2 linked regions of the Homo sapiens genome follow. The protein of the gene in region 1 interacts with the protein of each later gene in a biochemical or structural test. Each region holds a gene or a part of one and is shown on either strand. Other genes may lie near its edges. The genes, in order: HAPLN1 and VCAN.

Region 1 (3,832 bases):
CTCTGGAGGGTGAGACAGGAAAACTGCTCGAGCCCACGAGGCAGAGGTTTCAATGAGCTGTGATCACGCCATGGCACTCCAGCCTGGGCGACAGAGAGAGATTCCGTCTCAAAAAAGAAAAAAAAAGAAAAATAACCAGAGTGGGAGAGGTTGATAATACAAGAGAGAATAGATCTAATAAATAGAGATTTATCCAAGAAAACTGGAGGAAATGAGATCCAGAGCTCGGGGGCAACATCCACACTGGGCTCTTCGAGGTAAAGGAGATTTAAAAAAATATTATTCTACAAAAAGGAAAAAAGAGATAATGCATTGGGGGTACAGACCAGAGGCTAGTTTTAGGCAAGACAGTGAGAGGGTGGCTTCTATTTTCCATGTGAATTAGAGAGGCTTGCACATCTGCTACAGGGCTCAAGAAACAATGGACTTTTAAGAAATATGGTAGAACTGCCATAAAGCATGAAAGATACAGCTGACATCAAATACCATAAAGTTCTAAAGTTGTCCCATTCTGCAGGGTGATATTTACTTTTCTTAGCAGTTCCCAGAAAATTGGAGCAAGTGTGGAGGACGGGGGCAGTTAGATTCATCATGAAAAAAGATTTTGTTTTTTGGATCCCTTTGCAAACAACAGAACAAGGACATGGAGAACGCTGGCAAGCATGATGGACAAGAAAGAAAGAAGTGAAGATGAAAGGGAATGAATAGGTAGGAGGAATGAAGAAAATCTGAGATAAAGATTCCAGTTCACTGCCCTGGACCCGTAGTTGAGAACAACAAATTTTCTAGTTTGGGTGATTGGTACTATAATTATTTTTAAATTATATGTAAGTGACCAGTTTCCTTGGGATGGTCTTTGTTTATGCCTTTTTTGTTATCATGATTAGTAAGCCATCCCCTTTGACTCTTAAAAGTGTTCTGGTTTGACTAACACATTTTATTGTCTTGATATATATAAAGAGAGATGACACGAACTAGGCTTGGTCAAAGGAAAATAATGAGCTCAATTCTGGAAATGTTAAGTTCATGAAGCTATGGGAAATTCAGATTGAAAGGTCAAGTAAACTGAACACACATACAGACACAACTAAATTTATCCATAAAACAAATTCAGACAGTACTGAATAAATTATAATTTAGTGATTGACTCAAGAATGATATACTAATTTGCAGACAGACTCAGAAAATATTTGCATTACATACTTGAAGTTACTTTCTCTGTATTAAATTATACAGCAATTTAGGTAAAGTGAAAATATTAATCATGTAAGGATGAGGAATCATGTTAACATTGACCAAATGGTCAAGCTGGACTTTTACATTGGGTAATACCTCAAAGTGTCACAAGGTGGCAGCACAAGCACAATATAACATGTAATTAACAAGGGTCAAGATCCTTTCAGGTATTCTGCAGTTAGAATTTATACCTGTTGTATATTATATATATTTTTTTCTGAATGTATGGTCCTTAATTTAAAAATGATTATTTTGTTTTATCGTTATTGCTGACTTGAAAATGGAGCACATAAAAAGTTTAATTTTCTAATATGTACATTATTTTAAAATATTTTAGCTAGAATAAAAAACATGATCATGAATATACATTGATGGCATTCTCAGGATAATTATTAGCACATAGTGTATATAATGTCATAGTTATAAATGCTCTGTAAGTTTGCATCTTGATCAGTATATTTTAGATCAAAAATTTTATTTAGATCATCTTTTTAATATATTTATCTCGCTAGTAAAATCTGTGACTTTTTTCATTGGCCTGTAGAAGGAGAGTGTTCAGAAATTTCATGAAAAAATTTTGTTGGCATATTCTAGTTACAGTAACTTTAAGTAGGGGATAGGGTTGTCAGGTTTAGTTAAAAAAATACAGAATATCCAGTTAAAATTGAACTTTAGAAAAACAAGAATTTTTTTTGGTATAAATATGTCCCATGAAATATTGGGGTAATACTTAAAGTTATTGAATGATTGAATTTTTTTTTTGTATTTTATCAAGCAGTCCTATAAGGGGAGGGAGGAGAACCTGGACAAAAAAAAAAAAAGGAAGTTGCTGAGAAGTCCAGAGAAATCCAGGATTATGGACTACAAATCTGACCTAAGATTTAGAAGCCTTCAGAATCAAGGAATTAGAAAACGAATTATAAATAGACTTGAATTAGTCTGCATTCTGTGGCAAACTCATTTATATGGTAAGCTAAACAACATGGGCTATGGTTAATCAAGTACTCTGGTGAATTACCATCTACACCACACATTGATTACTGATTTTTAAACAACAAAATGCAGCAACATATATTTAAAGTTAGTTCGGTATTGGACAAAATGTAATAAACAACTATAATCTAGACATTTTGGGGTCTTACTCAGGGTTATCATTATGAAAATCTGTCATTAGAGCTTCAAGGCACGGAAATACCATTTTAATTTCCTTTAATTCAACAAACATGTCTGGCACCTTCTATATGCAGAGGACTGACTAGGACTGTGAGATGTAAGGATTAATAAACATTGCTGTTATCCAACTGAGTGGATATTTATAGTTAATAAAATAAAAAGTTAAATTCATGCATTAATCATGTCAAAACTCATTCTTACTAATTCTTCCCTGGGTTTCAGTTCTTGGTTAACTGCTTCTCCCTTAGTATATCCCTGGGATGATCGATCCCTTCTCTCTTCCAGATGATTTTCAACTACCATTTTAATGCCAGAGTCTTCCAAATCTCCATTTCCAGCCATGACTTCTCCCATGTACTTAAGAAATGTGCATTCAACTCCTATGAGTTTTTGGCTGTCCTGTTGGCACTTCTTCCTAAATTAGACTAATCATTTTCTCCCAGAAACTTCTATTCTTCCTATATTCCTAATCTTAGTCAATTGCATCCCTCCTCAGGTAATCATCCATCCTTAAAACAGTCACACTATCTCAGACTTCTCGTCCACATCCAGTCAATGCATCCCATTCAGTCATGCCTACGCTGTTTTGATGACCTCTGAATGGGTTTTCCACCTCCAGTCTTGCTTTCCTTAGAGATTTACTGAGATTAACAATTAATTTTATTTACATGATTAATTTTATACTGTAGTGATTATCATTTACATCTTAAAAGAGTTTATAAATTTAACAACATTGCTGGGTAAGAAGAGACATAAGGAAACAAAAACAGAGCTGGGGAACGGTTTGGGTTTGGAGGTATTCAGACATCTGAAATATAGGCACTTGGGATAGAAAGTCAGGACACCCCCGAAGCCCCATGTTCTGCACTGTGCTGGACACCAACAGCGGCAACAGGATGTCAGGCATTCGTATCTCCAAGCCAGCTGAATAATGCAGGCTAATGACCCCTCTCCTCTAGGCTACTGGAAAGACACGAAAGGAAATCACCTCTCTAAATCAGGGTCATCAGTCCTAGAAATTTAATAGGCTGTGAGCACATCTTTATGTTGTAAGACCAGAACAATAGCTTACAAGAGCACCAAACGATGGTAGCATAATCTAATGGGGTATAATAAAAAAAACTACATAAATTAATGAAATACTTAATAAAATATGGCTATGATTATGCTAATTAAACATAAACTGAGAAGATATTTAAACAAATGACTCTGATTCATGTCACTTTTATAAAGCCAAAGCAGATTTTCACTGTTTTCTTTTTTTTCATAGTTTTCCAGAAGCTATGATCAGCATCAACACTGAAATGTCTCTGAAACCAATTTTACTGTACTTACATACCTGAGAAAATATTTTTAAAAGATGTTGGCTTTGACCCGTATTTTCAACATGATGGCTGATTCCTGTGCTTCTCCTATGCATATT
Region 2 (3,832 bases), 190 kb from region 1:
AGACACCATCCACACTCATTTAGAAGACTTGGAGTCAGTCTCAGCATCCACAACTGTTTCCCCTTTAATTATGCCTGATAATAATGGATCATCCATGGATGACTGGGAAGAGAGACAAACTAGTGGTAGGATAACGGAAGAGTTTCTTGGCAAATATCTGTCTACTACACCTTTTCCATCACAGCATCGTACAGAAATAGAATTGTTTCCTTATTCTGGTGATAAAATATTAGTAGAGGGAATTTCCACAGTTATTTATCCTTCTCTACAAACAGAAATGACACATAGAAGAGAAAGAACAGAAACACTAATACCAGAGATGAGAACAGATACTTATACAGATGAAATACAAGAAGAGATCACTAAAAGTCCATTTATGGGAAAAACAGAAGAAGAAGTCTTCTCTGGGATGAAACTCTCTACATCTCTCTCAGAGCCAATTCATGTTACAGAGTCTTCTGTGGAAATGACCAAGTCTTTTGATTTCCCAACATTGATAACAAAGTTAAGTGCAGAGCCAACAGAAGTAAGAGATATGGAGGAAGACTTTACAGCAACTCCAGGTACTACAAAATATGATGAAAATATTACAACAGTGCTTTTGGCCCATGGTACTTTAAGTGTTGAAGCAGCCACTGTATCAAAATGGTCATGGGATGAAGATAATACAACATCCAAGCCTTTAGAGTCTACAGAACCTTCAGCCTCTTCAAAATTGCCCCCTGCCTTACTCACAACTGTGGGGATGAATGGAAAGGATAAAGACATCCCAAGTTTCACTGAAGATGGAGCAGATGAATTTACTCTTATTCCAGATAGTACTCAAAAGCAGTTAGAGGAGGTTACTGATGAAGACATAGCAGCCCATGGAAAATTCACAATTAGATTTCAGCCAACTACATCAACTGGTATTGCAGAAAAGTCAACTTTGAGAGATTCTACAACTGAAGAAAAAGTTCCACCTATCACAAGCACTGAAGGCCAAGTTTATGCAACCATGGAAGGAAGTGCTTTGGGTGAAGTAGAAGATGTGGACCTCTCTAAGCCAGTATCTACTGTTCCCCAATTTGCACACACTTCAGAGGTGGAAGGATTAGCATTTGTTAGTTATAGTAGCACCCAAGAGCCTACTACTTATGTAGACTCTTCCCATACCATTCCTCTTTCTGTAATTCCCAAGACAGACTGGGGAGTGTTAGTACCTTCTGTTCCATCAGAAGATGAAGTTCTAGGTGAACCCTCTCAAGACATACTTGTCATTGATCAGACTCGCCTTGAAGCGACTATTTCTCCAGAAACTATGAGAACAACAAAAATCACAGAGGGAACAACTCAGGAAGAATTCCCTTGGAAAGAACAGACTGCAGAGAAACCAGTTCCTGCTCTCAGTTCTACAGCTTGGACTCCCAAGGAGGCAGTAACACCACTGGATGAACAAGAGGGCGATGGATCAGCATATACAGTCTCTGAAGATGAATTGTTGACAGGTTCTGAGAGGGTCCCAGTTTTAGAAACAACTCCAGTTGGAAAAATTGATCACAGTGTGTCTTATCCACCAGGTGCTGTAACTGAGCACAAAGTGAAAACAGATGAAGTGGTAACACTAACACCACGCATTGGGCCAAAAGTATCTTTAAGTCCAGGGCCTGAACAAAAATATGAAACAGAAGGTAGTAGTACAACAGGATTTACATCATCTTTGAGTCCTTTTAGTACCCACATTACCCAGCTTATGGAAGAAACCACTACTGAGAAAACATCCCTAGAGGATATTGATTTAGGCTCAGGATTATTTGAAAAGCCCAAAGCCACAGAACTCATAGAATTTTCAACAATCAAAGTCACAGTTCCAAGTGATATTACCACTGCCTTCAGTTCAGTAGACAGACTTCACACAACTTCAGCATTCAAGCCATCTTCCGCGATCACTAAGAAACCACCTCTCATCGACAGGGAACCTGGTGAAGAAACAACCAGTGACATGGTAATCATTGGAGAATCAACATCTCATGTTCCTCCCACTACCCTTGAAGATATTGTAGCCAAGGAAACAGAAACCGATATTGATAGAGAGTATTTCACGACTTCAAGTCCTCCTGCTACACAGCCAACAAGACCACCCACTGTGGAAGACAAAGAGGCCTTTGGACCTCAGGCGCTTTCTACGCCACAGCCCCCAGCAAGCACAAAATTTCACCCTGACATTAATGTTTATATTATTGAGGTCAGAGAAAATAAGACAGGTAAGTCTTTGCTTTCTAGACTAGCATTGAAGGCAATCCTCATTTTATCTTGAAAGTTACTTTTGGGGAAAAAAAGTCAACATACCAAATGCTGCTATTAGAAGATAACTGGAGTGTGAAAAATAAATGTTTTAGCTTCATATATTTGTACAAGAATTGGAAGAATATGTTAAACAATGTGGAAGAATGTTAGATACAATTTTATGTTAAAAGTCATAAGAAGCCCTGCTTTGTCATCTAATATAACCAAATCATCACTGTTACATCACTTCAAAACATGCAGAACAAAGTGTTTTAATTTCAGTGTCTTTTCATACATTACTACTCAAGTGTAGCACTAGACTGTGTTAACATTCCATTGGTCTTTAACTATTAACCTTCAGTACTTACAATGTGGACGGCTAAAATCGTTTTGCATATCCCTAAGGTTGACAGAAAGATATTTAAAGGTTTGCTTTGGTTTTTCTCTTCCAGGATTTTACAGGTTTATTATATGACTTGTGTGGTGGGTAATAGGTCTCTAATGTAAGTGTTATTTTAATGTAAATGCAACATATTCTTATGCTATTGTTTTGGGGTATTTTACTGTGGTTTTATCTATTTAGAGCAAGTACAACCTAGCTTAGTTGTAGGGAGTATTACAGTTTATTGTATTAAATATAATTTCAGAAGGTGGCTATATATTCATTATCCTTGCTTCCTAAAAACCAGGCTGTAGTGTTGTTCATTTTATGATTTAATTGTTTTACCGCTAGGAATATTTGTGATGCCTTCTATTCCACTCAAATATTTTAGCTCTCTGACAGAACTCTTAAAAGCTGTTTGTTTACATTGATTAATACTTGGAGTTGTCATGATCAAATACGATTTATTGCTGTCTAAAGGTGAGCCCACACCATCTTTTACATTTGATAAGCTGAGTTGAGAATATATAGCAAATGCAGTTCAATAAATCAATTCAGGTTTGTCTCTTTCTAGTTTAGAAATTACGATCATGGATTTTAGTTAATTTGCTATATTTTCATTTTCATATAAGAATTAAATGAATGAGTATTCGTTGTTTTCTTGACCTGGCTCTGAGAAGACAGGATAGAAGATTTTTTTTTTTTTTTTTAAGCAGGGTTCTCTCTTACTGTTGGAATATTCCCTTTCGAGTATCATTTTTCTGAAGACTGATGCTATCCTCATTAGAGTGCTCAGGAGTGCACCTATTGGAAACAAACAAGTAGCGTTATTGTCAAGTATGTTTGCATGTAGTGCTGTTGGTGGACACTTCATGGCTTCTATAGGTTTCTACTCTCCAGAATTTTCTGTGTGAAAGCTTTTGCTTGTCAGTGAATAGTAGAGAAGAGAACACACCCACAGAGTATTAAAATTAACCTCCACTTCCCAATGCAGTTTAAAAAGGACAGGATTTGATCATGATTTTCTTGCTAATGATATTGTTTCTTGGAAATCATAACATATTTCCTCTTTTCTACATCCTTTTCCATCTCTCGGAACTGGTGTAGGAAAAAGAAAATGAATTGCCAGTAAGTCGGAATGAGGATTGCGTTAGGCTGGAAAAGAGACAGGAATATAACGGTGAA

What was found.
Region 2: the proteins of HAPLN1 (region 1) and VCAN form a complex in vitro, tested with the Homo sapiens proteins (one study listed by BioGRID).

Annotation. Positions count from the first base shown.
Region 1 is NC_000005.10:83,710,841-83,714,672, forward strand, and holds part of HAPLN1 (hyaluronan and proteoglycan link protein 1 precursor), read right to left. Parts: intron 1-3,832. UniProt on the Homo sapiens protein: Stabilizes the aggregates of proteoglycan monomers with hyaluronic acid in the extracellular cartilage matrix.
Region 2 is NC_000005.10:83,520,067-83,523,898, forward strand, and holds part of VCAN (versican core protein isoform 1 precursor), read left to right. Parts: coding exon 1-2,243; intron 2,244-3,832. UniProt on the Homo sapiens protein: May play a role in intercellular signaling and in connecting cells with the extracellular matrix. May take part in the regulation of cell motility, growth and differentiation. Binds hyaluronic acid.